Regions from separate parts of the Homo sapiens genome. Here region 2 is linked to region 1. Evidence: fine-mapped expression QTL. A gene starts in region 1. The other region holds a variant in brackets. All regions are shown on one strand. Distances are from middle to middle.

Region 1 (15,854 bases):
CAGCCTTGACCTCCCAGGCTCAAGTGATCTGCTCACCTCAGCCTCCTGAGTAGCTGGGACTACAGAGGCACACCATCACACCCAGCAAATTTTTGTATTTTCTGTAGAGACGGGGTTTTGCCATGTTGTCCAGGCTAGTAATTTTCTCTTGTTAACCTGTCTTTTGTTATAGGAGTGTTAGCTGTAACGCTTATGATGGGAAAGAAAGGGATCATCCCCTTTCCACCCCTACACTGCCTCTGTTTATGTTTTCTCCCTTAAACTGACAGGGCTGGTACACTTTTGTCGAAAGATGGGACTTTTTTCTCCTAAATTCAACCGTCATTCAAACTGGGTCAGACTAATGACAATTCTACCAAGTAGTGTATACCAGTAGCCTCAATAAAGAGATTTTGGGGGACAAATGTGCATCTTCCACACAGTTGTAGCCATAGAGTGCATATCTAACTTCCTTAAATTATCTATGTGGATCTGTCATCCTATAATTTGTCTAAATCCTTATTTTTTAATATTATGAATAGAGTCCAGCTTATATATAAAAATGTATTTCCTTTCTATGTCTTAAAAATTACTTGCTGTTGAGCGATACTATATTCCTAAAATATAGCGGAATCAAAATTCCTAGTTTACAGTCCTCTACCTCTATTACTTACTAGCTATTTGACCTTTATACCAATCAATCATCAGAGATGATTGAACCAGAGCAACTCCATCTTGAATAGGGGCTAGGTAAGATAAGGCTGAGACCTACTGGGCTACATTCCCAGACAGTTAGGCATTCTAAGTCACAGGATGAGATAGGAGGTTAGGCATTCTAAGTCATAGGATGACATGGGAGATTGGCACAAGGTACAGGTCATAAAGACCTTGCTGATAAAACAGGTTGCAGTAAAGAAGCCAGCTAAAACCCACCAAAACCAACATGGCGACGAGAGTGACCTCTGGTCATCCTCACTGCTACACTCCCACCAGCACCATGACATTTTACAAATGCCATGGCAACATCAGGAAGTTACCCTATATGGTCTAAAAAGGGGAGGCATGAATAATCCACCCTTTGTTTAGCATACAATCAAGAAATAACCATAAAAATAGGCAACCAGCAGCCCTTGGGGGTATTCTGCCTATAGAGTAGCCATTCTTTTATTCCTTTACTTTTCTAATAAGCTTGCCTTCACTGTACTCTATGGATTCGTCTAGAATTACTTCTTGCAGGAGATCCAAGAACCCTCTCTTGGGGTCTGGATTGGGAGCCCTAATAGTAATTGGTTTAAAAGGTGCTTATACTTACAGCTTCAAGGGCAAGGTCTGACTCTTTTTGCACAGTACACAGCAAGGAATTTTTAAAGCAATAGCTAACATTTTTCATGCCAAGCATGGGGCTAACATGCTACATATATTTCCTCTTTAACCATCATTCATGTTACCCCCCATTTTACAAGTGAAAAAAGTGACACTTTGAGAAATCAAATCCAAGGTCACGGCTAGTATGTTGCCAACTAGTTGCTCTCCGCTGATGGGGCAGTATATCTTATTCTCTGGAAATTAACAAGTTAGCTGATGTTAGTTTGAGGCATATACATTGCCTTCAGAAATGAATATGCTTTGGTCACTGCTGCCATTAGCCTTTGTGTTTACAGAATCAAGAGACTAATGACTTCCGGTTGACCTTCATATTGAAGGCAGTGGGGTTTATCCTATAGTTCCTGACTATCCCTACTTATCTTTTAAACCCTCCAGTTATTGCAGCATTTACATCTTTCTTCATTTACCATTATTGAATTTCTATTGAGCACACAGGCAGCATTCAAGGAGATACCAGGATCATCCAGACAAAATATGTGCCTTCAAGGAGCTGAAAGCTACCATATAATCAAAGTATGAAGTTCTCTCTTTTTTTTTTTTTTTTTTTTTTGACAGAATCTCTCTCTGTCACCCAGGCTGGAGTGCAGTGGTGCGATCTTGGCTCACTACAAGCTCCGATTCCCGGGTTCACGCCATTCTCCTGCCTCAGTCTCTCCAGTAGCTGGGACTACAGGTGCACGCCACCACACCCGGCTAATTTTTTGTATTTTTAGTAGAGACGGGGTTTCACTGTGTTAGCCAGTATGGTCTCGATCTCCTGACCTGGTGATCCGCCTGCCTCAGCCTCCCAAAGTGCTTGGATTACAGGCGTGAGCCACCGTGCCCAGCGAAGTATGAAGTTCTTAATCATCCATAGCATGAAATGTTTCTTACATGTATCTTAATTATGAGATGAACGATTTTCAAAATCCTGAGCCCATGACATTTAGTTCCTATCTGTATGACGAGCACTTGGTAGTCTGCCTTGTTTTGTGGTTATATCAAGAAACTCTAACTTAATCACAGATTTCTCCATGGTGCAGTTGTAGATGCTTTGCATCTGAGGACTAAGCTCTGATTTTTTTTATCATGCCCAAATTCCTATCTAAGGGGTCTGGGGAGTCATGCCCCACAAATAATAAGTTATCATCAAATGGGTTTTATTTAACTCTATATATCGTGACTTACTTTCCAACTTGACTCTGGCATAACATTATAAGACAAGGAAGAAAATAAAAATATTTTACCCCAAAACATATTTCTTTGCCATATCTTGAAATGGCCATACAAAGCTGTCCTTTGCGGGGAAAAATTCTCATCTGTAAAGAATCCCTATAACATAGCTAGATCTTTTTCTTCCAGGCCCCCCAATCCTAAAGAGATTAAAAGTCTAGCACCTTTCAAACATCTGAATAGGAAACATTTGTCATCTATTGTCTCTAAAGGCAGCCACTACAAGACTTCAAAAGAACCTTGGTCTCCACAATCTTTTATCTTAACTTGAACATTCCCTTTCTGTTGATCCCAGGTCTTCAGACAAACTCAACCAATTATCAACCAGAAAATGTTTAAATTTACCTATAGCCTGGAAGCCCCCTCCCCTCTCGCCTTTGAGTTGTCCCCCGTTTCTGGACCAAACCAATGTATTTCTTAAATGTATTTGATTGATGTCTCATGCCTCTCTAAAATGTATAAAACCAAGTGTGCCTGGACCACCTTGGGCACATGTTCTCAGGACCTCCTGAGGGCTGTGTCAGGGGCCACGGTCACTCACATTTGGTTCAGAATAAATCTCTTCAAATATCTTAGAGTTTGACTTTTTTCGTTGACCCACCAATTGGCCGGATTATTACTCATTATTTACTTGACAAACACATTAGGAGCCCTGTCCCCGGAAGCTCGCTGTCACGAGGGGCCTCTGACATCTCCTTCTTGAGAGAAAGGTCGCCTGGCCTGGGTGAGGTCGTAGTTCCCGCGACCCCGTGCTTGCAAGTACTGGCTGCCTCCTACTATAGTGTAAGCTCCAGGAAGGATCCCGCGGGGGACCTGACAGCTCACGGTCCTGGCCGACAACCGCCCTGGGAGCGGAATGGATGGAGCCCGCAGTCGTCCCGGCGCACTGGGCAAGCTCTGCTCCCACTGTGGCAGGCCAGATCTCCATTAGCAACCAGAGCAGCTCTCACCAACGCCTCACTGTCATTCTGATGCATGTATAAGTTAAACATTGGAGAAACTGGTGCCTTAGGAGAAAGGCTAGAATGTAAAGACAAGTCCATTAGGATCCCGCCTGAGCTTTTTCAACCCCTAGAGTTTAATTAAAATAATGGAGTTGTTCTTGCACACCTTGTACCAGGACCCACTTTAGATTATTTCCAAGGCTCTGAAGCAATTGTCTAGACACCTGACCCTATTACCGTTAAAGATTGGCTTGAGTGAAACACTTTGGCTTTCGACTTGTAAATGCACTGAATGTATTTAAGCACTAGAAAAACTTGTATTAATAATTTTGAGTTGGTCTGGTGAGTTACTCCGACCTTCTCCCTGTAACCTGTTGCAGAAATAAACTCCGTTCTTTCCCAGTCTGTCTGCATCTCGTTACTGAACGGCGAGAACAAGCAGTCGGACCCGGGTGGGTCGGGGAACACAACCTCACCCGCAGCCGAAACCCCTCACCCGCATCCCTTCCCGGCCCGTGAGGCGTCCGCAGGCGGCGGCGCTCGGGACACGGCGTTCGCGGTGCTCGCCTCCGCTGCCCGAGGGGAAAAGGGCAGGAGAAATCTGAGGAGTCCTTGGGCCAGGAGCCAAAGCCCCTCAAGTGCCCGGGCGCGAACCCCAGGCGCCGAGCTCTCACGTCTGTCTCCGCCAGTACGCTAGAGCCGGGGTAGTGGGCCAGCACTCACCGGCCCAGCCAATCCAGGACCCGCTCTGCACTGCCCCACCCGCCGCGCACACGCACGCGTCCTTTTGCGGCCGCTGGCCTCTGATTGGCTGGGACGGCTGTGGGTGGGGAGAAGCCGGGAGGACTGGGTGCGCCTGCAGGGATCGGAAGCCGGTTGGGGTGTGAGAGGTTTTCTCGCTCTAGGTAAGCGAAACAAGCCGGGGGACTGCGAGCCAGGGACTCGGGCCGCGGGGCGGGAAGAAGTGGGGCAGCGCTTGGCCAGGCCGAAAGGACTTTGGGGGTGGGGGCTGGGAGTCCGTGTCTCGAATGAGGGAGGAGAGGTGGAGTTGCCGGGGCTCAGGCCCGGCCTCGAGCATGGGCGGATGAGAGGAGTCGGGAGCCGAGGCCTAGGGTCCTTCGGGTGAGGGGAGACGGAGCCAGCGAGGAGATGGAGCAGAAGCTTGTGGAGTGAGTTGCCGAGCGGGGAAGACTCGCTGATGGGGTGGTAATGAGAGACGGGGGCCAGGAGGGTGTTGACTGGGCCCGACGGCGGGGAGCGAGGAGCGGGAGCTTCCCCGGAGCTTGGAACATTCTGAAGAGCGGGCTAAGCGGCAGGCGAGGCGGGATAGGAGAGCGAGCGCTCCGGTCACGGAGTCACGACAAGGTCACAGGAAGAGAGGCGGCGAGGAAGGTCGGGAGGTTGAGGGGAGGGCGTACTAGCAGAGGACCTTCCAGTCCTGGTCTTGCTTTTCTCCCCGACCTGGTGTTTCCTCCACCCTGGGAAAGTGATAAGGCCTAGGGTCCTGTGTAGTGCTTCTGTGACCGAATTAAATTTTTCTCCTGCCGAGTCGGCGGGTTAGAGATTACAAAGCACAGCGTAAGGGCAGAATTAGGAGCAGCCGACATGATGCAGCAGTGATATTCGCCTTTGTCTTAAATTCCCGGAGTGGGAAGCAGCTATTTCCCTCTTCGGAGTAATCCCCACGACAGGGATCCCTGCTTCCGGAAGTACAAAGGCACTTTGGAGTAAGACAGGTTTGGATGGAAAGTTCTAACAGGTTGAAGCGGTGACAACCTGGTCATGAAGCTCCAGCATGACACACATATTTGGAGTCCTGTATACTAGGAGTTCTCTTTGTGCACCAGAGTCACTTGAAGGGGCTTCTTAAAGATTCCTTGAGCTCTGCCCCAGACCACCTGAATCCGGATCTCCATGCTGGGGCCTTGGCAGCCATTTTAAACAAGCTGATGGGCGACTGATGCAAAATCAGTTTGAAGCCAGCGTTGCTTTAGATAGTAATTCCCGTGACAAAATGACTGTGAAGAAAGATCCTTCATTCAACCTGTTACGTCTCCTGATGCTGGACGGCTCATCTTCCCTTAATGCCTCTTTAGGTTCCCTGTGGAAAGGTCTTCAGTCGTGTCTTACTAAGCGTACAGAATTAATTTGTGCTCTCCAAACTGACTTTAAATATCTGGTTACTGGTGCCTTTTTTAGCGTCTATTCAACTTTCTGACAGAAATCTGGGACAACTACTGTGGGTGGATGAGAAAACGATAATGAAGGAAAGTCTGGCAGTGGTGTAGTGAAAAAAGTCTTTTCAAATCACAATTGAAATTGTTAGATGAGTTAAGTCACTGAAGAAGATTCCGTTTACCTTAGGCATGATTTTTTTATATATATCATTCAAAGAGAACAACGTGGGCTTCTGTTGAGTAATGGATTCTTAAATTTTCTAATCAGAATTCTTATCTGCCAATTTAATCTAATTTACATCAGCAGCGTAAGATTGATGCTTTGGCAATATATCGTCAATCAAAAGAACCCAGGACTCTCTATCAGAAGAGCTGGATTCTAATCCTACCCCACCAGACATGTATTCCTTGTACTGAGCAATTCGTATAACCCTCTCACAACCCTTTCCCCACCTGTAAAATAAGGCTATTGGCTTGGATTATTCATCTGATTTGTTACTCTCAAATTATATGATTAGAACTTATTGTTCCTGATACTTAACCAGTTTTCAATTCAGGTGGCTATAAACCATGAATACTTTGGAAACTTCTACGTGGTAATTAGACAGTTATCAAAATTTTGTATTCAGAGAGTATTTTAGATATGTACTATATGGGAATTATAATATTTTGACTACAGAATAACAAATAACTGATATGTGTTGGATTTTTAAATATTAATCCTTACTAATTTTATTCTGAAATGTACACATAAGGTATTCTGGAATCACAGACAGATTATCATCTGTCGTTTCAAGCAAATAATGACCATTTTGTTCCCCACACCCTGATGCTTACCGCAGGGGCTACTTTCTGAAACCCAGGTCAAATGCCCTATCCATACAAGCTTCAGAGTCTGTATCATAGATGAAGAACGGAGAAATAGGTTTTCTTCTGTTCTTGATTTATATACAGGAAAGAGACAACTAACCCCCTCCCTCCTGAAAGGAGAAAAAAAAAAAAACCTTTTGCTCCATTGACCTGTTGGAGAATTAGAGTCAGCCAGATGTGAGATAATTATAAGAAAAACTACCAACTTTCTTGCTATTTTTAAAAAACGATTTATGTCCTGTTTTTGTTTGTTTGTTGGGTCCCTCAGCAAGGGTCTTGCCTGTTGCCCCGGCTGGAGTGCAGTGGCTGGATCATGGCTCACCGCAACCTCCACTTTCCAGGCTCAAGCAGCCCTCCTGCCTCAGCCTCCTGAGGAGCTGGGACTACAGGTGTGCACCACCATGCCCGGCTACCAACTTTCTTGCTTTTAAAGACAATTCCCAAATGATTTTTTAGTTTAGAAATGATTCAGGCAAAAAAGGGGAAAACATGCTTTTATATCTGCAGAAGTTTTTAGTTTTTAAAAGTGGATTATGGTATATAATAGTTTTGTCCCCTGTGTTGCAAGGAACTAAGACCTCAGGTTATTTCTCTTTTCATAGGTACAATATAAGAAACATAAAAGAAATAAGCACTTAGGTACATACAGTTAGGCATTTTTCTTACTGATTAAACTCTACAAATCTGTATGATTGTTATTTTTTTGTACTCAATATTACTGAATAACCTAAGAATGCTTTCAGTTGTTGAGAAATGTAACTTTTAAATGTATTCAAGAAACATTTGTAGTGTACATATTATATATAGGGTATTGCACCAGGCAGTGGAGTTGGATACAAGCAGAGCAGGTATTGGTCCCTGACTTGAAGGATTCTAGCAAAAGAAACAGACAAACTGGTGCTTATAAGGGTTATAAGGAAAGTACAAGGTCCTATGGGACTGCATAACCAAAGCACTTACGAACTTAAAGAGACAAAAATTTCTGAGAGGAGGTCAATTAAGATGTGAACCTGAGTCCAGTATGGTGGCACCCAGTGGCAGTGTGAACTGTGAGGAGTTCGCCGAGTTCCAGGAATTACTCAAGGTGATGTGGACAGTTGATACAGACTAGTACATTAATTAAACACTACAGTTCCAACAGCTTCCTTTGCAGGGAAGATTGATGCCAGCCAAACCTGTAAACAACTTTGAGTCTTTGATGGCAGCTCATGCCAGTAGGGACAGAGTCATAAAAAACTATATAGCCCAGACCTCAGCAGTAGTAAAAAACCTCTGAGAAGAGAGAGAAAAGAATTTGGACGATTTAATATTGTTAAAGCAACTCAGAACAGAGCAGGCAAAGTTGAAATGGATGTAGTCAGAATGATAAATGACAGGAGCTGGAAGGAGTTTAATGAATGCTGCCGAATTCACTTCAAACCTCCAAATAAACAGAATAAACGGAGATACTTTTTTTTTTTTTAAAGGACCGGGTCATCTCATAAGAGCTAAGCATGACAAATGTCAACAGGGCGGGCTTCCTAGGATGATTTCTGAGCCAGTAGTCCAAGACCTTTTGTTGATTTCAGCCCCACTTAGGCAAGACCTCAAATATAAATAATTCTGATAATTATGGAGAAATCAACTGCTATTTTATACTGATTCTGTTAAAAAAAAAGTTTTGTAACTATTAAAATAATGTTCTGACTCAGTGTAAAAAAAGAAAAACCAAACCTGAAAAAAAAAATGGGAGGAGTTAGCTAGGAAAGAGTATCTGAAGGGGATGGAAAGGGAGGGAAACTCTCACAAGTAGAGGAATCAGCTTGTGCAAAGGCTTAGAGGTATAGAGAGCATCTTAAAAATATTTAATGTGGTCAGAATGTGGGGTTGGGAAGGGAAATGAAAGGATTTGTGATAAACTTCCCCTTTGAGAAGGTCATGTTTTTTTTTTCTTTTTCTTTTTCTTTTTCTTTTATTTTTTAAAATTTGAGACAGAGTCTCTCTGTGGCCCAGGCTGGAGTGCAGTTGCACAATTTCAGCGCACTGCAACCTCTGCCTCCCGGGTTCAAGCGATCCTCCTGCCTCAGCTTCCCAAGTAGCTGGGATTTCAGGCATGCACACCACTATGCCCAGCTAATTTTTGTATTTTTAGTAGAGATGGGGGTTTCACCATGTTGACCAGGCTGGTTTCGAACTCCTGACCTCAAGTGATTGCCCACCTTGGTGCCCCAAAGTGCTGGGATTACAGGCATGAGCCACCGCACCTGCCCGAGAAGTTCATGATTAGATATGAAGGCAACTAGTAAACATACTGGCCTAAAATAAATACAGTGTTTAATCTCTCTATCCAGTCCATTTATGCAGTTTCTTCAAAGCCAGTCTCAAGTGTTTCTCTGTGAAACGTGCCAAACCTCCTTTAGCTAAAATACATCACTCTCTCTAAATTCAGACCTTGTCTGTGTTAGGCTTTTGACAACTAATTACACTGTGATTGAAACCACCATTGCAAAATTATAACTGAGACAGTGAAAGAGATCTGACCTAGCCAAAAAAAGATGGAGCCAGGCATGATGGTTCACGTCTATAATCCTAGCACTTTGGGAGGCTGAGGCGGGCAAATCACTTGGGGCCAGGAGTTTGAGACCAGGCTGGCCAACATGGCAAAACCCCATCTATACTAAAAATACAAAAAAAAAAAACCAGGCATGGTGGTGCACACCTGTTATCCCAGCTGTTAGGCTAAGGCACAAATCACTCAAACCTCGGAGGCAGAGGTTGCGGTGAGCAAAGATCGAGATCGTGCTCCAGCCTGCGTGGCAACTAGACCCTGTCTCATAAAACAAAAATAGAAAAATAAAGCAAAGATGGTAACAGCCCTTTCCTAAAACAAACCCCCTTCTTGCCTGGGGACTAGACTGCCTTTGTAGGTTTAATGAATTAGCCACAGATTAGAAATTATGGTTTAGGAGTCGTGCAGCTGGAAGTTATAAGATTCTTTTTTTTTTTTTTTTTTTTTTAATTTATTTTTTTATTGATAATTCTTGGGTGTTTCTCACAGAGGGGGATTTGGCAGGGTCATGGGACAATAGTGGAGGGAAGGTCAGCAGATAAACAAGTGAACAAAGGTCTCTGGTTTTCCTAGGCAGAGGACCCTGCGGCCTTCCGCAGTGTTTGTGTCCCTGATTACTTGAGATTAGGGATTGGTGATGACTCTTAACGAGCATGCTGCCTTCAAGCATCTGTTTAACAAAGCACATCTTGCACCGCCCTTAATCCATTTAACCCTGAGTGGACACAGCACATGTTTCAGAGAGCACAGGGTTGGGGGTAAGGTCACAGATCAACAGGATCCCAAGGCAGAGGAATTTTTCTTAGTGCAGAACAAAATGAAAAGTCTCCCATGTCTACTTCTTTCTACACAGACACGGCAACCATCCGATTTCTCAATCTTTTCCCCACCTTTCCCGCCTTTCTATTCCACAAAGCCGCCATTGTCATCCTGGCCCGTTCTCAATGAGCTGTTGGGCACACCTCCCAGACGGGGTGGTGGCCGGGCAGAGGGGCTCCTCACTTCCCAGTAGGGGCGGCCGGGCAGAGGCGCCCCTCACCTCCCGGGCGGGGCGGCTGGCCGGGCGGGGGGCTGACCCCCCCCACCTCCCTCCCGGACGGGGCGGCTGGCCGGTCGGGGGGCTGACCCCCCACCTCCCTCCCGGACGGGGCGGCTGGCCAGCCAGAGGGGCTCCTCACTTCCCAGTAGGGGCGGCCGGGCAGAGGCGCCCCTCACCTCCCAGACGGGGCGGCTGGCCGGGCAGGGGGGCTGACCCCCCCCACCTCCCTCCCGGACGGGGCGGCTGGCCGGGCGGGGGGCTGACCCCCCCACCTCCCTCGCGGACGGGGCGGCTGGCCGGGCAGAGGGGCTCCTCACTTCCCAGTAGGGGTGGCCGGGCAGAGGCGCCCCTCACCTCCCGGACGGGGCGGCTGGCCGGGCAGGGGAGCTGACCCCCCCCACCTCCCTCCCGGACGGGGCGGCTGGCCGGGCGGGGGGCCGACACCCCCACCTCCCTCCCGGACGGGGCGGCTGGCCGGGCGGGGGGCCGACCCCCCCACCTCCCTCCCGGACGGGGCGGCTGGCCGGGCAGAGGGGCTCCTCACTTCCCAGTAGGGGCGGCCGGGCAGAGGCGCCCCTCACCTCCCAGACGGGGCGGCTGGCCGGGCGGAGGGCTGACCCCCCCACCTCCCTCCCGGACGGGGCGGCTGGCCGGGCAGAGGGGCTCCTCACTTCCCAGTAGGGGCGGCCGGGCAGAGGCGCCCCTCACCTCCCGGACCGGGCGGCTGGCCGGGCGGGGGGCTGACCCCCCCACCTCCCTCCCGGATGGCACGGCTGGCCGGGCGGGGGGCTGACCCCCCACCTCCCTCCCGGATGGGGCGGCTGGCCGGGCGGGGGGCTGACCCCCCCTCACCTCCCTCCCGGACGGGGTGGCTGCCGGGCGGAGATGCTCCTCACTTCCCAGATGGGGTGGCTGCTGGGCGGAGAGGCTCCTCACTTCTCAGACGGGGCAGCTGCCGGGCGGAGGGGCTCCTCACTTCTCAGACGGGGTGGTTGCCAGGCAGAGGGTCTCCTCACTTCTCAGACGGGGCGGCCGGGCAGAGACGCTCCTCACCTCCCAGACGGGGTCTCGGCCGGGCAGAGGCGCTCCTCACATCCCAGATGGGGCGGTGGGGCAGAGGCGCTCCCCACATCTCAGACGATGGGCGGCCGGGCAGAGACGCTCCTCACTTCCTAGATGTGATGGCGGCTGGGAAGAGGCGCTCCTCACTTCCTAGATGGGATGGCGGCCGGGCGGAGACGCTCCTCACTTCCCAGACTGGGCGGCCGGGCAGAGGGGCTCCTCACATCCCAGACGATGGGCGGCCAGGCAGAGACACTCCTCACTTCCCAGACGGGGTGGCGGCCGGGCAGAGGCTGCAATCTCGGCACTTTGGGAGGCCAAGGCAGGCGGCTGGGAGGTGGAGGTTGTAGTGAGCCGAGATCACGCCACTGCACTCCAGCCTGGGCACCACTGAGCACTGAGTGAACGAGACTCCGTCTGCAATCCCGGCACCTCGGGAGGCCGAGGTTGGCGGATCACTCGCGGTTAGGGGCTGGAGACCGGCCCGGCCAACACAGCGAAACCCCGTCTCCACCAAAACCAGTCAGGCGTGGCGGCGCGTGCCTGCAATCGCAGGCACTCGGCAGGCTGAGGCAGGAGAATCAGGCAGGGAGGTTGCAGTGAGCCGAGATGGCAGCAGTACAGTCCAGCTTCGGCTCCGCATGAGAGGGAGACCGTGGGGAGAGGGAGACGGAGACGGAGACGGAGACGGAGACGGAGAAGGAGGGAGAGGGAGAGGGAGACGGAGAGGGAGACGGAGAGGGAGAGGGAGAGGGAGAGGGACGGAAGTTATAAGATTCTAACCCTCCCTAAAATGCTCCTAAGATCAGTGCTTGAGATATTTTGCAGACCCTGCACTTGATAGACCAACTGGCACCACCCAGATCAATAAACTGGCTCGTCTGATCTTATGTCCCCTACCTAGGAACTGACTCAGCACAAGAGGACAGCTTCAACTTCCCATTTCATCTCCAACCCAACCAATCAGCACTCTGTTCTCTGGCCTTCCCCCACCCACCAAATTATCCTTAAAAACTGATCCCTGAATGCTCCAAGAGACTGATTTGACTAATAATAAAAATCCTGGTCTCCCACACAGCTGGCTTTGGGTGAATTGCTCTTTCTCTATTGCAATTCCCCTGTCTTGGTAAATCAGCTCTGTCTAGCCAGCGGGCAAGGTGAACCTGTTTGGCGGTTACATGATTTCTCTTTTTTTTTTAAAAAAAAAAACAACAACTAATTTTTGAACGATTAATTACTTTAGTGTTTATATTGTATTATTCAGATATATAGTGAGTATCTTGAACCTTGAGCTTATTGAACCTTATATATAATAAAGCTCATTACTTAGGAGTTTATTCAGTTAAGAAGTAATGGAGTACAAAAAGAAGGTTTAAGTCCAATCTAAATTTTCTTTTATTTAGCTAAGATTTTCTTCTATGTCAGATGACAGTTGAGTCTTCTCAATGAAGGTGAGGCTTATAGGGATGAATTCACTTTCTAAACTAAGCACACCACCCCCTCCGGAGTTGCATTTTTGTTGAGGACCTTAACTGCCACTGACTCCCCTTGAGTAGCAAGGTGTTGAATGAGAGGTACTTTTATCAAAGGGAGCATAATGCACATGAAAAACCCAGAAGTGAAAGTAAGATTTTATATGGGTGTTAGGATGGGCATAGACTTTTAAGTTTATTGTAATTGACACTAATTAGAGACTTGTATGCTTACACTATGCTTCAGGCCCTTATTTTATCTGTGAGTAAAGTTTATTGCAATTCAAAATAGTTCAGTGAAGAAAGTATACTTTGTTATTGTGGCTAAAATGAAATAGCATTTGTTAATGCCTCATTGTGATAAAAGGGCTATTCACGGAGATGACTGAAAAGGAGGAAAGGAGCCTTTGATCCCTGTGATAATGAAAATGAATCCTTTTTTTTTTTTTCCTATCCCCTTACTCATACACTATCAGGCTAGATCTTGCCTTTGGGATACCATTTAAAGGAATTATAAAAAGAGGGTAGAGTTTTAAAAGGAAGCCTAGGGGATATAAGGTATGTAAATGAAGGCAGATCTGAAGCTTAGAAGATATTAAGAAGACCCTGAGGGTAATTCAGTTTTGTGCTGCAGTGATGTTAAAAGGTGCTAATCATAGGGCCAGGTGTGGTAGCTCATGCCTGTAATCCCAACACTGGGAGGCAGGTGGATCACCTGAGGTCAGGAGTTCGAGACCAGCCTGGTCAAGATGGTGAAACCCCATCTCTACTAAAAATACAAAAAAAATTAGCCAGGCATGGTGGCAGGCACTTCTAATCCCAGGTATTTGGGAGGCTGAGGCAGGAGAATCACTTGAACCTGGGAGGCAGAGGTTGCAGTGAACCAAGACTACGCCATTGCACTCCAGCCTGGGCAACAAGAACGAAACTCCATCTCAAAAAAAAAAAAAAAAGCTAATCATAAGCTGGCACAGTGGCTCACACCTGTAATCCCAGCAGTTTGGGAGGCTGAGGTGGGTGGATCACGTGAGGTCAGGAGTGAAACCCTGTCTCTACTAAAGAATACAAAAAAATTAGGCACGGTGGTGTGTGCCAAATGGAGGTTGCAGTGAGCCGAGATCGTGCCACTGCACTCCACCCTGGGCAACAGAGCAAGACTCAGTCTCAAAAAAGAAAAAAAACTAATCATAGGTCATTAAAAAAATCTAAAAGGCTATGAAGGAGACATTTCTACCAATATTTAAAATAAAAGCTTTGTTCTTAAAATGAGTAAATAATGAGCTAGGTAGAAACTTTGGCTATTCAGAATAATCTTTTCCCCAGAGGCAACCACCATGGATAACAGATTACTGTAATAGACTGGAAACTAATCTGAAGTGAAAATTGAAGCAAGGAAGCACATTGGAATAAATAAATCAGCAGTTGAAAGCAATAAAGACTGCATTTAACTACACCGAAAAGTGCTAAGTAGGATTTCCAACATGATATTGAAGGTTCAATAGGAGTTGTCAGTTTGGTTTGAGTAACTTAAAATTGTCAAGTTAAATAGTTGATTAAGGATGAAGATAGCCAGAAAATTAGTAGCTACTATTTTAATTGATAAAAGTAACATCAATTTAAAATTTTTCACTATTTTTAATTAACATGGTGCTAAAAATGAATGGGTTGTACAGGGGAAACGGCAAAATAATAGGGGGAATAAGTGTATACAACTCTCCCTTGAGAGTGACTGTACATTAAAAATACAGTTAATTTCTAAAAATATTTTTTAACTTTAGGATTATGGATAACATATACTAAGATTCTCATGGAAGTTAGGAATATTTTAAATACATCCAGATATTTAATAATGTTCAGATGCTTTTAATTACAGAACCTCATAGAAATTCTTTCTCAGGGAGATTCTTCAAGCAATCACTATGTCAACAGACACAGGTGTTTCCCTTCCTTCATATGAGGAAGATCAGGGATCAAAACTCATTCGAAAAGCTAAAGAGGCACCATTCGTACCCGTTGGTAAGTTTGACTGACATTTTAGTAGTCTTGAATATGGTAGAGCCGTGATAATTTGTTCATTTAGCAATATCCTGAAAGAATGTATTTTCCATTTTTTTCTTATGTTGAAATATGCTGAGATTGGCATGATATAAATCTCATCATAAAGATTCTTCTGTATGTATTCAGACTTTTTTTTTCTTTTTGGAGACAGGGTCTCTTTCACCTAGACTGAAGTGCAGTGGCTTGATCATAGCTCACTGCCCCCATCCCTCGACCTCTCAGGTTCTTGATCCTCCCACCTCAGCCTCCTAAGTAGCTGGGACCACAGGTGTGCACCACCACGCCCAGCGAATTTTTGTAGTTTTGTATAGACACGGGGTTTTGCGATACTGCCTAGGCTAGTCTTGAACTCCTGGGCTCAAGCAATCCGCCTGCCCTCAGCCTAGTGCTAGGATTATAGGCGTGAGCTGCCACTCCAGCTGAGACTTCTTATTTTATTGAGTCTTATTTCAGTGCATAATGTTGTATTGGGGGACCCCAAGACCATCCTCAGGTTAGATGATTGGGCCAAGACTCATAAGACTCAAAAATGCTTGTTACAGTCATAGTTTATTACAGCAATGGGATATAGGTTAAAGTCAACAAAGACATATAGAATGAAGTGTAGGATAAACCAGACACAAAATTCTAGGTGTCCCCTTCCCAGGGAGTCCCACAGGGGGAGAGGGGGTGCATTTAATTCTTCAGTACTGATGTGATATGTGGCAATACATGCTAAGTCTTGCCATCTAGGGAAGCCCACCAAGCCTTGGTAACCAGGTTTTATTGAGGTGTCAGCTGTGACTGAAATTAGCTATTCAGTCTCCTATCCCCCAGAGGTCGGACTCGCAGGCATATTAAAATTCATTTAATATGCAGTTAAAACAGATGAAAGGTGAAATTTATAGTATATAAATTAATCTTAAGAAAAAGTTTAAAAATTTTTAATCTTACAGAGAATTTTAAAATTACCTTTAATGCCACCATTTAGATATAACTGTTGTTACCATTTTGATGTACATATTTCTCCAGTTGTTTTTTCTTTTTTTATCTTCACAAATTCAGGATCATACTAAGATGCATATATGTATTATAATTTTTATCTCATGTTTTTAACTATGTTATTCG
Region 2 (15,854 bases), 91 kb after region 1:
TCTCTATTTCCAAACTTTTTCATAACCACAAACAGAAACTCTATTACTATTAAGCAATAGCTCCTCATACGCCACCCACTAAGCCCAGCATCTAGTAACCTCTTTACTTATTTTTTTTTTTTTTGAGATGGATTCTCGCTTGTTGCCGAGTCTTGAGTGCAATGGCATGATCTCGGCTCACTGCAACCTCTGCCTCCCGGATTCAAGCAATTCTTCTGTCTCAGCCTCCCAAATAGTTGGGACTACAAGCACCCACCACCATGCCCAGCTAATTTTTGTATTTTTAGTAGAGATGGGGTTTCGCCATGTTGGCCAGGCTGGTCTTGAACTCCTGACCTCTGGTGATCCACCCGCTTCAGCCTCCCAAAGTGTCGGGATTACATGCATGAGCCACCATGCCCAGCCAGTAACCTCTTTTCTATGAATTTGCCTATTCTAGATATTTTGTATAAGTGGAGTCATGCAATATTTACCCTTTCGTGTCTGGCTTATTTTACTTGGCACAGTGTTTCCAAGGTTCATCCGTATGGTAGCATATGTCAGAACTTCATTCCTTTTTATGACTGAATAATATTTTATTGTGTGCATGTACCACATTTTGTCAATCTATTCATCTGTTGATGGACACTTGGATTGTTTCCACCTTTTTGGCTATTGTGAATAATGCTACAAGAACATTGCTGTACAAGTACCTGTTTGAGTCCCCGTTTTCAATTTGAGAAGTGGAATTGTTTGATCATAGGGTAATTTTATGGTTAGCTTTTTAAGGAGCCACCAAACTTTTCCACAATGGCTGCACCACTTTATAGTCCCACCAGCAGTGTACAAGGGTTCTAATTTTTCTATATCCTCACCAACACTTATTTTCCTTTTTTTCAATAATAGCCATCCTAGTAGGTTTGAAGTGATATCTCTTTGTGGTTTGGATTTGCATTTCCCTAATGGCTAATGATGTTGAGCATCTATTTATGTGCTTATTGGACATTTGTATATTTTCTTTGGAGAAACACAAGTCTTTTGCCTACTTTTTAATTGGGTTGTTTGTCCTGTTGTTGAGTTGTAGTAGCTCTTTATGTTTTTTGGAAATTTTTTATTGTTTCAAGCCACTATTTGTGGTAACTTGTTATGCAGCAGTACTAATACATTTACCCTATTATTAACTGGGAAATCAAGTTTTTTGTAAACTTATAGGAAGCCATCTATTTCTTCTATATTGTGGAATTGTCAGAATAGCAAAAATCATTGGTTCCTTGGAGGTTAGATAGAACTTTCTTGAGAACCTGGCTTGACCTGATTTTTTTTTTTTTGGAGGTAGATCTTTGACAACCTTTTTTCAAATTTAGATTTTCTGTGTCTTCTTGAAGTAATATTAGTACATCTTGTTTACTTACAGAATTAAACATAATAATGCTTATGCAGTGCCTTAACACAGTAGTTGGTATGTGGAAAGCACTCAAAAAAAGTATTAGCTGTGCTGTTGTTATAAGATTTTTCTCCTTGTCCTGGAGTTCAGGTATGTTACCCAGCTGGGTCCAAGGATGTGTCTTAGTCCATTTTGTGTTGCTATAACAGAATACCACAGACTGAGTAATTTATAAAGAAAAGAAATTTATTTCTCACAGCTCTGGTGGCTGGGAAGTCCAATATCAAGGTGCCAGCGTCTGACAAGGGCCTTCTTGCCGCATCCCGTGGTGGAAGGCAGAAGGGAAATGGCATGGGGAAAGTTGAAGTGGGGACAAAGTTATCCTTTATCAGAAACCCACTCTCATGATAACTAACACACTCCACTACTGACCAGTGGAACTTTCTGTGATGATGGAGTTGTTCAGTATCTGCACTGACCAATACAGTTTAAGAACTTGAAATGTCACTAGTGTGACTGAGGAAATGAATTTTTAATTTAATTTTCATAAACTTTATTTTTTTTTCTTTTTGTTACAACAGAGCCTCGCTCTGTTGCCCAGGCCAGAGTGCAGTGGTGCGATCTCGGCTCACTGCAACCTCTGCCTCCCAGGCTCAAGTGGTCCTCCTACCTCAGCCTTCCAAGTAACTGGGACTACAAGCACACGCCACCGTGCCAGGCTTATTTTTGTATTTTTTGTTGTAGATATGGGGTTTTACCATGTTGTCTAGACTGGTCTTGAACTCCTGGACTCAAGTGATCCACCCACCTATGCCTCCCAAAGCACAGGCGTGAGCCATCGTGCGTGGCCTGAAATTTAATTTTTTTTTTTTTTTTGAGACAGAGTTTCGCTCCTGTTGCCCAGGCTGGAGTACAATGGCACAATCTCAGCTCACTGTAACCTCCACCTCCCTGGTTCAAGTGATTCTCCTGCCTCAGCCTCCCAAATAGCCGGGATTACAGGAGCATGCCACCACACCTAGCTAATTTTTTTTTTTTTTTTTGTATTTTTAGTAGAGACGAGGTTTCACCATGTTGGCCAGGCTGGTCTGGTCTCAGACTTCTGACCTCAGGTGATCCACCCACCTCGGCCACCCAAAGTGCTGGGATTACAGGTGTGGGACCCCGGGCCCAGCCCCTGAACTTTAATTTTAATGGCTACATGTGGACATGAACCTCGCAGTCACTGTGTTGGGCAGCACAGCTCTATCATATTCTATCACGTTCTATAGTATGAATATGTTACCACTTACTTGTTTGTCCCCTGATGATGGGCCTTTAGGTTGTTTTGGGTTTTTGCTTTTGCAAATAAAATCTCAAGGAATATGCTTAAATATGTGTTAGTAGCTGTTTACTGTGTTACTATACAGCTTTTTATTAGTAGTTGTATACTGTTCAAAATTGTTGTCATTCTGTTCCTTTTGACCCTTCACCAAGGTGGAAAGATCACTTCCTCCAACACTGTCAGTTTCAAGGCTGCCCCTCTAATTTTCAGGTGTGCATGTAACTCTTGGCTTGGGTTAGATCTCAGGGAGTTCTGGCTTTCTCACTAAATGAACCTTTAGTATCATAGAAGTCTGAAATGGCACACCTAGCCACAGGAAGGACCTAAGCTCAAGCTCCAGTGGGATTAAACAAGTGCTTCATGTGAAATAACATTTATGACAGGCATGTAGAAAACAAAACAATAAGCTTAAGATAATCACTAACTCCAAGAAAAGCGAACAATTAAATGAGAAAGGACATATGACACTGTGCGTCATGGCTCTAACTAATTGTCCTAACGTAGACAGGCTTTTGGTGTCTATGCCCTTTGCTCCCTGCTGTTATGCCTGTGAGTGCTTTATGTTACATGAAAAAGAGATTTTGCAGATATGATTATTGTTATGGACCCTAAAATGGAAAGATTATCCTGGATTATCTGGTGGGCTCAATGTAATCTTTTGAGCCCTTAAAAGCAGAGAAATATCTCCGTCTGGGATTATTCAGAGAGTTGCTGTGGAGGAAGTCAGAGAGGGTAGTGAGATTCAAAGTGTGTTAAGGGTATCTAGCTGGCTTTAAAGATGGAGGGGGCAAGGTGGCTCCTAGAAGGTGAAATTGACCAGCAGCCTGCAGGGAACAGGGACCTCAGTCCTTCAACTACCTGGAACTGGATTCTGTCAACACTCTGAATGGGCCTGAAAGTGGATTTTCCCCCGGAACCTCCAGATAAGAGCCCAGGTCAGCCAACCCCTTGATTTCGGCTTGTGAAACCAGAAGCAGAGAAACCCACTGAGCTTGCCAGGCCTCTGACTTACAGAACTGTGAGATAATAGATTTGTGTTGTTTTAAGCTGCTAAATTTATGGTAATTTGTTATAGCTGTGATAGAAAACTGATACCTAATATCAATTCATCCAAAAACGTATACAGGTGATTCTGTTTCGTAGGAGGAGAGTACTAAAATAAAACTAAATTCTTATTTTGCATGACAGGAAGTCAAAAGATTATATTTAAACCTTATATAAACCTAAAAATAGCAACATAAGCATCTGTAGAAATATGGCAGTAAATATTAAAAGAAACAGCTAGAAGTGTTATAAGTGATTGCTTTTAGAGAGCAGGAATTGGGAATGATGGGGCTGGGAGTGGGCTGATAATTTTTAAATTTTAACCTTGGAGAGAACCATATGGTGTTTAAATGCATGTTCCTGTGTTACTGCAATGAAAATGAAGAGGTCCCATCACTACCAATGTAAGATGTGCCCATCTCTCTAAGGGCCTGAGCAAGTGGGGTAGGGCCTGCCCCTGCCTGCCAGGGCATGTAGCATCCCCTCCTCTCTAATCACCAGGGTGGAGGAGAGCAACAGCAAGCTCCTGGAGTCAGAGAGGAAGCTGCAGGAGGAGCGACACCGCACCGTGGTGCTGGAGCAACATCTGGAGAAGATACGCCTGGAGCCAGGGAAGGCATCAGCCTCCCAGAGAGCAGCTCCCAGGACCAAAACAGGTAGGGGCCAGGGCAGTAGTCTCAGTGCAGGGGGTGGAGGCAGTGTTGCTGCTAACAGAGGAGCCAGGCAGCTGCACTGTTCAGCCCATCAGTGAGCATGTGGGAAGCAGAGCTTCCATCAGGGTGGAGCTCTGCCTGCCTCCACTGTGGGGTGTTCTTTTCCCCAGGCCTCTCAGTCAGAAGCAGGAGCCCCAGAGCTCCATTGCCTCGTGTGGCCCTGGCCTGGCCACCTGTAAGCCCTCAGCATGAGGTGGCAGTGCTGAATGCCCCCAGCCACCCTAGCCCTCAACCCTCTATCCTAAGCTGACTTCATTCAAAGTGGTCATGGGGCACAGCTGGTCTGCTGGGGAAGCCCAAGCAACAGTGGCTGAAGCAGGGGAGGAGTCCCTTTGTGCCTCCTGCAATGGTCAAGTTGATATAAGCAGGAAGTAGCCTCACCAGAGGTTTGGGGACCCAAGCTCCCTCTGTTTTGTGGCTCCACTGTTCTCAACATGCAGCTTCCATCTTCTGGTCTACAATGACTGCCTGAGCTTTCCCATCAGCAGCAGGAAGGGGAGAAGGGAAGGAGACAAACTTCTCCTTACCTTTTACGGTTGCATATGTCACTTCTGCTCTCATCCCATCAGCCAGACAGTTGGGCATAGCCAGGTGCAGAGGGAAGCTGGGAAATGCTATCCTTAACTGAAAAGTCTATCGCTCGAACACAGTGGTTCTCAAGGTGCAGTATTCAGATGAGCAGCATCAGCATCCTGTGGGGCTGGGGCGAGCTGGAGGATGCCAGAGCCAGAAGCCATTTCTGGGATGGCTGACTCCCAGGGAGGAAGGGTCTCCAATGTGGAGGGGCTGGGCCTGCCTCTGTCTGACCTCCCATCCCACCCATCCCAGCCCCCTCCAGGCTGGAATGCTGGAGGTGCTGCTGCCCCCACTGCACCCTCTTTCAACACCCCAGTAGCCCCCCAACCCCTCCCCAGCCAAGGATGGTCAGACCCTTGGTCTCAGTCCTCAGCCCAGATGAGGTCAGAACGTTTCAGAAGGGTGTGCCAGAAGTAGGGCATAAAGAGGGTGTTGGGGCCACTTGCTTTCTCTTCTCCCACCAGCAGGGCCAGGAGCTTCTGAGAATCCAGGCCGGGAAGGAAGGGTCTCTGGGGCTTAGCCTTGCTGACCCTCTTGGACTCTCAGGAATATGTTCCCTAGGAGTGTGGCTTCTCCAGGCTGGGGCTTACCTCCTGTAGGGCAGCAGGACTTCCAACCAGGGAGAGCTAAGCCACAGCAGGCAAGTCACTTTGTTCCCTGCTGGACAGTGAGGGCAGCTGCCTGAGGGAAAGTGTCCAGGTGGCCTCTGCTGCCTACTGGCTTTTAACATGGGCAAAATCCTGCCCCTCTGGTGAGCAGAGCACCACTTACCCGCCTCCCCCTGGCCCATCCGTAAAATGAGGAGGCTAGATTTATAATTCAGTCCCCCATGGCAGTCTCACTCCAGTAGGGGAGCTAGACATCTGAGCAGAGATGGAGGAACTGGGAGGGGATGTGGCCTGCCGATCCCTGAGGGAAAGACAAGTGTCGGTGCTTGGAAGCTTAGCTGGATGCTTGGAGGAACAGGGAGGAGGCAGGGAGGCTGGAGTGGTCCAATCACACAGGGCCTTGAGAGCCAAATAGAATTCACTGAGGCTGCCAAAGCTCTAGAGGCATAAACTATTATCCTTTTTTTCAGCTAAGGAAACCAGCTCAGAGAGGCTGATAGTTTGCCTGAGGCCTCTCAGCAGAGGGCGAAAGCCAGGTCTTCTGATACCAAGTAATTTACTGTGGGTCACACCACCTCTGAGGGCCTTTTCAGTCCCGAGGTTTTCTGATGCTGTGATTTTGCCCAAGTTCGCCACCACCAGTTGAGCTTTGTCTTTTTTTTTTTTTTTTTTTTGGAGACAGAGTCTCACTCTGTCCCTCAGGCTGGAATGCAGCGGTGCGATCTCAGCTCACTGCAACCTCCACCTCCCTGGTTCAAGCAATTCCCCTGCCTCAGCCTCCCAAGTAGCTAGGATTACAGGGGTTCGCCACCACACCCTGCTAATTTATGTATTTTTAGTAATGATGGTGTTTTACCATGTTGGCCGGGCTGGTCTTGAACTCCTGACCTCAAATTATCCACCCCCCTAGACCTCCCAAAGTGCTGGGATTATAGGCATGAGCCACCGCACCCGGCTGAGGCTCTTTTTGATTCCCTGTGTCACAGGGCTTAGAAAATTCCATCAGGCTGAACAAGCAGTTTCCCATCCAGGGCAGCTCTAGTTGGGGATGTGGAGGTGCTCAATGCGTGGAATAAGCCAAGGGCAGCTTAGCAGTGTCCCCTGGAGCCAGGAAAGGCCCTGAAGAACACTCAGTCCAGCCCCTGTAGAGGGCAGAGCCACTCTGCTGCCTCCCCAGCAATGAGACAGGTTTACACAAGACTAGTCTTGAGGTGCATGCCTCCATGCCTGGCTAATTTTTATGTATTTTTAGTAGAGACAGGGTTTCACCGTGTTGGCCAGACTGGTCTTGAACTCCTGACCTCAAGCAATCTGCCCCC[A/G]CTTGGCCTCCCAAAGTTCTGGGACCACCCCACCGTGGGCCACTTTGTCTCCTTTTTGTGAACATTCTGTACCCTTCAACTCCAGGACCCTGGATCCCCTGCTTCCTAGTATGAAGCTGATGGCCTGGATGGGGACCACTGGTATGAGGGCATCAGGTACAGTGACAGTCTAGACTCGGGCTCAGCCTGCAGGCCAGACCTCAGGCTCAGCTGGTTTCTCTTTTTGAAAACAAATTACCAGGCTGGGCATGGTGGTTTACGCCTGTAATCCTGGCACTTTGGGAGGCCTAGCCAACATGATAAAACCCTGTCTCTGCAAAAAATACAATAATTAGCTGGGCATGGTGACAGGCACCTGTTGTCCCAGCTACTCGGGAGGCACAAGAATCGCTTGAACCCTGGAGGCGCAGATTGCTGTGAGCTGAGATCACGCTACTGCACTCCAGTCTGGGTGACAGAGCAAGACTCTGTCTCAAAAAAAAAAAAAAGAAAAAAAAAAGAAAACAAATTACCAGAAACTTGTAAAGTATAAAGATGGAGACAGGGTGGTGAGGAACCACCCTGGTACAAAGCGAGCAGAGTCAGGGCTGTAGCAGAGGCCAAAGCCAGGGGCAGAGGCATGCAGAGGAGGCATCAGGGAGGGCTTCGGAGGGAGGCAGAGCTCAGAGTTGCCCTGCACCCCGAAGGCGGTGTAGCGTTTCACCATGTGGAAGAGCAGGCAGTGGGCAATGGCGGGAGGAGAAGCAGGGTGCTAGCACAGGGCTGTGGCCTCCTCACAGAAAGTGGTTGCTGCTGCCCCACAGGTCTGCCCACCTCTAACAACAGGCACAACCCAACCGGGAGCGAGAAGAAGGACCCATCCTTTGCCCAGCTCTCCGATGTGCCCGTGGAATCCCAAATGGAAGAGCTGACAACCAGGTGCTCCCCTGCCCCGCCTTCCTGAAAGGGTAGGGTTGTCTGAGCAGAGGTGCCTCCATGGGCAGAGGGACTGTGTCCCTCCCCTTGCACTTTTGACTCATTTGCCCAGAAGGCTTGTCCTGTTTGGTCCTGGGTTCTAGGCCTGCAATTCAGGGACTGGCCTTCAGAGGACAGAGGGCCCGGCCCAAACCCCAATGACCCATAGTCCAAGAGAAATTTTATCAAGCATGGATCACTGAACCAGTTTCTCACTACGTTAAACCTTTTAAGACCCCACGCAGCCATGGGAAGGGAAAGACGGGAACCTCTACAAATTGGAACTCAATTTGTAAGGGGCCTTGAGGTAGCTTACATTGCAGGGAGCCAGGCCCATAGAGAGGAATCCATGGTACCCACAAGAGTCAGTGAGAGGAGGGGATGGGTCAGAGGGAAGCCTGAGCCTGAAGAGCAGCCATGCTGGCAACCACATTCCCAGGGCCCTCTGTCACCCACGCACACCTGTGTGCAGCTCCAGCCACACTGAGCACTGTCTCCTGTGGTCCAGGCTGGCCATCCAGGTGGAGGAGAATGAAATGCTAAAGGCTGCCCTGGGCAGTGCCCTGCGGGGAAAGGAGGAGGACTTCCGGATGTACCATGAGATCCTGGGCCAGGTGAAAAGTGTCTTCCTGCAGGCCCTGCGGCAGCAGAAGACAGGCAAGCAATAGGATGACAGCCCAGTGTCGGCCTGGCCGGGTGGGCAGCCTCAGGTCTTGAGAGGATAAGACTCTGTCTGAGGACTCCATCTGCTCCGGGAAGCCAGCCCAGGGCAGCCAGCTCAACCACTTCTACCAGAAGAGGCTCCTTAAGGATGACCAAAACCAATGTCTCAGGCCAGGAAGGCAGAAGAGAAGCCCTGGTGGGACACTGCAGGAGACCCTGGGCTGGCTGGGTTACAGCAGCAGGGAGGCCCAGCAGCCCACTGGCAGAGGCGAGAGCTCTGGGATGGCAAGGCGGCTGTGAATGGACAGATGCAGTCCCTCGGGCAGGTGTTCATCGCCCTCATCCTAGGTACTAGCCCTGGATGTCCCCATGGCTTCACACACAGAAGAGCCCTTGGTTACCCTAAGTGGGCATATCCCCCATGCCACTCAGCCCTGCCCTATCCCCTCACCCCCATCCCGGCTCCATCTGTAGCCGTCCACACCCTACACAGACTTGGGGCACTATGCTCTCAACCAGTTTGTCAGCCCACTCCTCAGGACACTTCCTCAGGTGCAGACCCTTGGACTTGTAATAATAATAAGTATTTTCATAATCACTGCAGCTCCCAGTGAGTGAGCATCTACTGTGGCAACCTGACCCCATTCAGTCCTCTAATGACCCAGGGGTTTGTTGTCTTATTTGACAGATGAAGAAACTGAGGTTCACAGAAAGAAGCTGAGCTAATATTTAACTGCAGTCTGCCTGACCCCAAAACCAGGGTCTTGCCGTTCAGAGATTACCCAGGGTAGGCGCACCCACCCACCACTGAACAACCCCACCCCTAGGCAGCAGCTCCAAGAGGCATCTTTGTTTGCTCACCAAGACTGCTGATGGATGCTGGTGGCAGAGGGCCGAGGTGGGGCTCAGCTGGAGCTTCAGGCAGAAGGGTTTTGAGGTAGTGGCTCCAGTCAAAGGTACAGTGCACCTCCCTCGCCATGGTGAACTTGGAGGGATGCTGCAGGGGCACCCTAAGATCCGCAGGCCTCTATGACTGTCAGTGTTGCCCTTTCTCAGCTGTAACTATGCACTTATAGCTACAGGAAGGAGTGGCCCCAAGGAGGGTCACTCATAGCCACACACCCCAACTCCGACACCCTGGCCACACAGGTGCACCCACAGCCCCACACAAAGATGCAGATGCACACACATACCTCAATTCAGGAGCATGCAACTGTACGTGCACACAGGCACCTCCATGTGTGCACACTCATGGACACACAGGTGCAGATGAGCACACACATGTGGATGTGGACACACATTCCCACACGTGAAGACATAGCCACTTGTGTGTTGCTTGTGCAGTGATGCACAAATGCAGGTGCACATACTGTGAAAACACCCCCTTCCCCAGGAAAAGCCACTGGGGCTCCTGCGAGCATCTTGTCAGCTCCTTCCTTGGAAAAGCCACTGCGGCTCCTGGGACCCTGTCTTCTCAGCCCCTTCCTTGGGGATGGGGCTATGGAGGGACCCTAGCTGGCCCCCACTCCTCAGGGAGCCCCTGACCCTGCATGGGGTCACACGGATCTAGAGATCCCACAGCAAGTTAGAGCAAAGGCCACCGGGATGAACTGATGATTCTGGTGGGGTCCTAAGGGTCTCTGGGAAGGAAGAGTTTTTCTCTGGTTCCTTGTGAAGGAAAACGGCCAGGCAGAGAGCCAGGAGAGAGAGGGTCTGTGCTTGGAGGGGACAGTGTGTGACAGCGAGGGGTGGGCTGGATGTAGAGTCTGAACACAGAGGAGTCAGCACCTTCTCCTGCAGGCCCTGAGGAGCTCCAGAGGGTGATCTGAGTATGAGGGGTACAGGCTCTGGCCTCAGTGCAGTCCCAGGGAGTGAGAAGCAGGCATAGGATCAGCCATCCTTCCTCAAGATCACCTCAGGGAAGTGCAGAGATGGTGTGACCCACACTCCAGCCACTTCAGGGTGGTTCTGCTGCCCTTCCTGGGCTATGCCTGAGAAAGGAAGGAGCATTAGGTCATGGAGTCTGGACAGGTGGGGCTGCCTGGGGCATACTTCTCTCCCCACTTACCAGCTGTGTGGCCTTGGGCAAGTTATTTAACCTCTCTGATCCTCCACATTCTCATCTATAAAATGCAGACAATAATAGAATCCTCCCTCAGGGGGCTGTTATTAATATGTATGTCAAAGAATAACCCAAAGACGTTTCACTAATTATTAGCTCTCTGTTTATTTCTGTACAAGGAACATGTATCTATAGACTGATTTCAACAAGAGTTATATAAGAGAGAGGGGAAAGAAAAACTGCAGACAGGCAGGCACAGGAAATCTTGTTTGCACATTTTTGGGTAAACTGATTTGCTGGTGTCTTGCTTTGGCCAACTCTGTATATAAAGATGAGTGTTTCAGCTTTCAGATTCCACGGGCAACCTTGACAGCATTGCTGTGGTGCCATGTGCGGGAGTGCCTGTCATGTCTGCTGGCACCTACCACCGGGCACCTCCCCACCCCTAGCTTGGTTAGATCAGGTCTGCTCCATTCCCTCATTGGAACCCTCTGCAGGGTTCACTGAGATAAAGTGTCCATTGCTTACAGCAGCTGCTCGCACACAGTAAGCGCTTAATAATTATTCGCTCTTAGTGTTCCCTCCATTTGTTCAACCAGAACTTGTTGAGCAGTTCCTCTGCCCCAGGCACAGAGGTGCCGAGGTGAGGCAAACACAGTCCCTGGCCTCCAGGAACTCTCAGATCAGCTGAGGAGAGAGACAGACTGGTCACAGGTCACCATTCCATCCAGCCAGTCGGCCACCAGGCAGTCAGTGAGTGCCAACAGCATGCCAGCCTCTCCAGGCCTGGGAGGGACCTAGAGGTGAATCTGACTTGCTTCCTCCTTTCAGGGAGTTTCCAGTCCAATCAGAGGTGTGGGAAACGCCATGATGGAGCTGGGTGGGGAAGGATGCAGGACCGGGCTGCAGCACCACAGGGCTTCCCCCACCATCCCCACCCCATCCCTGTGGCAGTTCCCAAGTTCCCAACCTCCTTGATCAGATCTGGGTAGAGAGGGGGCTTCACATCTCCCTGAGGCAAAGGAGCAAGGAGGAGTAAAGGGAAGGTGGGGAGAGCCTGGGAGAAGGATTTTCAAGGGAAGGAGGTCATCAAAGGGGTCAAAGATAGGGACCCTGAGAAACCTAACTTAGGTGGGCCAGGTGCACAGCCAGGCAGCTGGTCTGTCCAGGTTAGTACCAGTGCCTCTCCTGGGTAGCACCATCTGTCCTGGGCACCCTGAGGATGACCTCCCTGTCCCTCAGGCAGGTGGGCAACAGGTGTGCTGGATAAGACACCAAGGGCCCTGGCCAGATCCACGAGGAGGTAGTTGGAGGGGAGGGTGCAGGTGCCCTGGCGGGTTGAGGGGCAGGGGCAAGTAAAGAGTTAAGTGGTGAAGTTGCCTCAAGTGAGGGCTCTCCCTGCCACACCCCAGGCAGGTGCTGCAGGTCTTGGTGCTCAGGTTCCAGCACTGACAGGTGAGACCTGGCTGAGCTGTGGACGTAGTTTGGCCACTGTCCCCACAGGGGCCTCTGGGGCACCACAGCTGAGCTGGGCAAGGTTGCAGCCTGGCTCAGGCTTAAACACACTACATTGTCACTGGGCCCCTCCCCTGCTCCCAGGAGCCCAGGGCAGGGTGACCTCCAGTGGGTGTGCTCCTCTGCACCCCCACACCCAGGGGCCAGAACAAGCTTCTCCTCCCCACCCCCAGCCAGCCCACAGCCAGCCCTGAGCACAAAGAAGTCGGCCTGCCCACCTTCTCCCCACAGGTGTGCCTTTACGTACACTGACTCTCCTATATCTGTGAGCCTTGCACACACACAACACACATATACACACGTATGTACGATACATGTGCACACACAATACACAGGATACACATACACAGCAAACACATGCCATGAACAACCTACAACACAAAACGTACACACAGACCCACACACAACTGATACAAAACACAGTTGCACACGTACATGCAAACACACAGGATACTTTCCTCGCATTTTTACTTTGAGCAACAACCAAACAAAAAAAGTCTGAAAATTGAAAAGGGACTCAGATTTGAGAGAATTGTCCCCACTCCCCACCATATCTTTCCTAGTGGCCCTTGTGGCATTTGGGAAGCTGGCCCCAGGGCCAAGTGCTGGTCTTAGCTCAGTCAGCTTCCTGTCCCTCACGTGGGCTGGCCTTGCCAGGTGCCCTCCCCTGCCACCCCCCTCAGACACAGTGGAGCTGGCCTCAGGCTGTCCAACCACAGATCCATGGGACTTCCCTAGCCCTCCACCCCTCTTGCCATTTCCGCACACCACACTCCCTGCAGACCCTGCTGTGTGTGGGTCACCCAGGGAAGGCCTCACTTCTGAGTGTGAATCCAGCCTTTCTGGGCCTCTGGGGGTCAGGGTGTCTGTGGCTCTCTAATAGCCTCTGTTTATGAGCAAGGCTCTTGTCATGGAGTGAATCACCGGATGCCCCCTGCCACCCCAGTGAGGGCCAGGGCCAGCGGTATGCCCATTTTACAACTGAGGATCTGAGGCCCTAAGAAGTGGGTCACACCAGCTCAGGGTCAAGTAAATTGGCTGAACCTGTGTTCTTAACTCTGGGGTCAAACCACCCTGTCTGCTCCCTTGAGCCATTTTCTTGGAGCCTCGTGAGGGCCCCAGTGTGGGTGCACGGGGTTGTCGCCCCTGCAGGGCAGTCAGTGCCAGGAGCTTACAGGGCTGATCCAACTACTTGGCTTCCTCATGTGCCAGGTCCTTCTTCTCCCAACTGCGTACAGTGGCAACATCTTCCCTATGGGCTGTGGTGACATTAAAAAGTTAATCCATGTACATCCTGGCTACTATGATTAACTTACTCCTAACAACCTTTGACTACCCCTCCCTGAGGAAGCCCTCCTTAACCCTGAAGTCTGGCTCAGGTATCCTTCCCTTCCTGATGCTGGCCTCTCTAGTGCCCATTACCCACCACAGCTCTAACCCAGCACCCACACTGTGCAGTAGTCACCATTCATGCTTCTCAGGGTCGGGGACCACAGACACGGGCCTCTGTGTCCTGTGTGGAGTGTGTAGGTTGGGCGTCTCCTTGCTGTTCTCCAGGCCAGCGTGTCTATGTGCTCGGGAGGCAGCTCCCTGCCTAAGTGCAGTCTCTCCCCTTCCTGGGCCCTGATGGGTGGGGAGCAGCACCTCCCTCCTGCCTCCTCAACTGAGCCTGAAGCTGGGGTCATAGGATCAGCAGGGGCTCCAGGAGCTGTCCTGTGACTGATCACAGCCACAAAGCTCCTTCTACCCCCGAGAGCCTCCCCACAAGCACACAGGTGAACAGGTCCCCCTAGATAGCACAGACACATACAGCTGCCCGAGACTTGGCCTCAACCGAAGGGGCACTGTCAGAGGTTCTTAATCTCAGGGGCACCTTCAGGATGCCCCTCCCCTCAGGTATCCAGGGCTGAGGCCTTGGATGCTCCCTTCCAGAATGAGGGCCCTGTCCTACCAGGACTCCCAGTTGGTTAGGAACACACCTGTCTTCCTGTCTGCCTCCACTCTGCCACCGAGAGGATACCAGCCATTCCAAGTACCCACAAGCCTTGCCAAGTGACCCTGCTAGCACCCCTCCATCCAGGACACTCCCTATGGGACAGGGCTGACTTATGGGGATCCCTCTCAGCCACATGTCCCATGCCAGTTCCAGTCCCATCAGGCAAGTCAGCCCTCCCTCAGGCACTGATGCATGGCCAGCCAGGACTCACGGCATAATGAAAAGGACCAGGTCATGGGGCGAGACAAGTCTGCCCTGGGATAGCCCTTAGGAGGTCATATGTAAAGGTAGGAGCTGGAGTCCCTGGAGCCCAAGCATGAAAGTGTTTGCATGTTGTGACTGTGTGTGTCTGTGGTGGGGGCAGGGCTTACAAGCCTGGAGAGGCTGGTGGGACCACCAGGAGTCTTCCTGGAAGAGGGAAGTCCTGGGTAGCAGTGAGAGAGAGGCACAGGCTCTCTAGGAGCCAGGGGAGGCAGGCTGAAGAGAGGCCCAGGTGTCCCTGTCTGAGCCTATGCTACTGGACACCCTCCCCCCACCCAGCACCCGCCCCCCTTCAAGGATCCTCCCTGCGGCTCCCTGTGGCCAGCAGCTCTGCAGCACTCGGCTCTGCTCCACTCTGCTCAGCTCCGCTCCAGGAAGGCCACCTCCTCCTCCCCCTCCTCCTCCCGCTGTCACCACTCACCGCTCATAACCTCAAGGGGGTGGGGACCCCAGGGCTGGACACACCCCACCGTGGCCCCAGAGCTCAGCCGGTCGCACGGACGGACAGTTGGAAGCCGGACCCCAGAGCCTGAGGTGGGCAGTGTGCCAGGGTCCCTTGCGGCCTCCTCAAGGTCAGTGCCAGCTGGGGATGCAGCTACTCTGGGGCTCTTGAGACTTGTGGGGCACACCCCAGGCCCTCATCCCAAATCACAGGCCCCAAAAGGGGCTTTACCCCCGGGGCATCTGGGGCAGGCAGGACCAGGGGAAAGGGTATGCCCCCGTGTCCACAGGCCAGCCCTGGTCTGGGGGTCTATCAGGAGAGGCCCCAGGCTGGGGGCCAGCTCCTTGCAGAGGCCTCACTGGGGACACCCCGCACCGGCCATGGGGAGCTAAAATTGGAAAGTGGCGAGTGGGAGGCAGCTGACAAAGCTATTTCACGGGCTCTTCACCATGCTCCGGTTTCAAGCTCCTGCTCCATTAACCTGATCCCCAGGGCCTCTCCACCCCCACCCAACTGATGAGGAGGTGCCTCCACCCTCAGGCCGACAGCACAGCCATCAGGCTGGCAGCCTCTGCTGTGGGCAGGGGCAGTGGTGGTCTTCTCTTACCCCAGATTCCAGAGGGGGGTCACTGAGAAACCCAATCCTGAAGGGAGGCAGGCAGAAGTCTGTCCCAGGTCTGCCATGTGACCTTGACAGGTCCCTGCCCCTATCTGGCCCATGACCCCTCCATCTGTACGAGGAGACCGTCGGCTGCTGGGGGGCCCAGGGGAGATGGCTACAGGGCTGGGGATGAAGATTTAGGGGAGGATCAAGGGTGGGCAAAAGGGCCACATCAGCCACCTCTTGGCCCCGTCAGCCCAAGAGTTGCCTGGACATGTTCCCTGCTTCCTCCCTTTAATTTGGGTCCTATGTCTGTATCCATGGAGTCCTTGGGAAGCCCCTGAGCCAGGCTGAAGCGGGATAGGAAGGGTAAAGGTGCTAGCTGAGCCGTAGTACGGCCCAGCAGTTCTCCA

Evidence for each region. PIP is the estimated chance that this variant, and not a neighbour inherited with it, causes the effect. A credible set is the group of variants that fine-mapping cannot tell apart.
Region 2: its variant is the best candidate, but not a certain one, in a credible set for the expression of HIGD1A in sigmoid colon (GTEx, PIP 0.56).

What each region holds. Positions count from the first base shown.
Region 1 is chr3:42,793,008-42,808,861 of GRCh38, reverse strand. It overlaps HIGD1A (HIG1 hypoxia inducible domain family member 1A), which reads left to right and starts at 4,372. Exons shown (of 4, transcript NM_014056.4): 1 at 4,372-4,426; 2 at 14,587-14,705. The coding sequence starts at 14,609. It also overlaps the pseudogene MIX23P4. RefSeq lists an enhancer at 2,538-3,335 and a silencer at 4,197-4,416.
Region 2 is chr3:42,701,695-42,717,548 of GRCh38, reverse strand. CCDC13 (coiled-coil domain containing 13) reads left to right here. Exons shown (of 16, transcript NM_144719.4): 14 at 4,233-4,387; 15 at 7,751-7,865; 16 at 8,410-11,793. The coding sequence ends at 8,569. HHATL-AS1 (HHATL antisense RNA 1) reads right to left here and starts at 15,008. Exons shown (of 3, transcript NR_146957.1): 1 at 14,820-15,008; 2 at 13,317-13,400; 3 at 10,784-11,502. It overlaps HHATL (hedgehog acyltransferase like), which reads left to right and starts at 14,751. Exons shown (of 12, transcript NM_020707.4): 1 at 14,751-14,970. The variant A/G (reference allele first, on the strand shown) is at 6,948.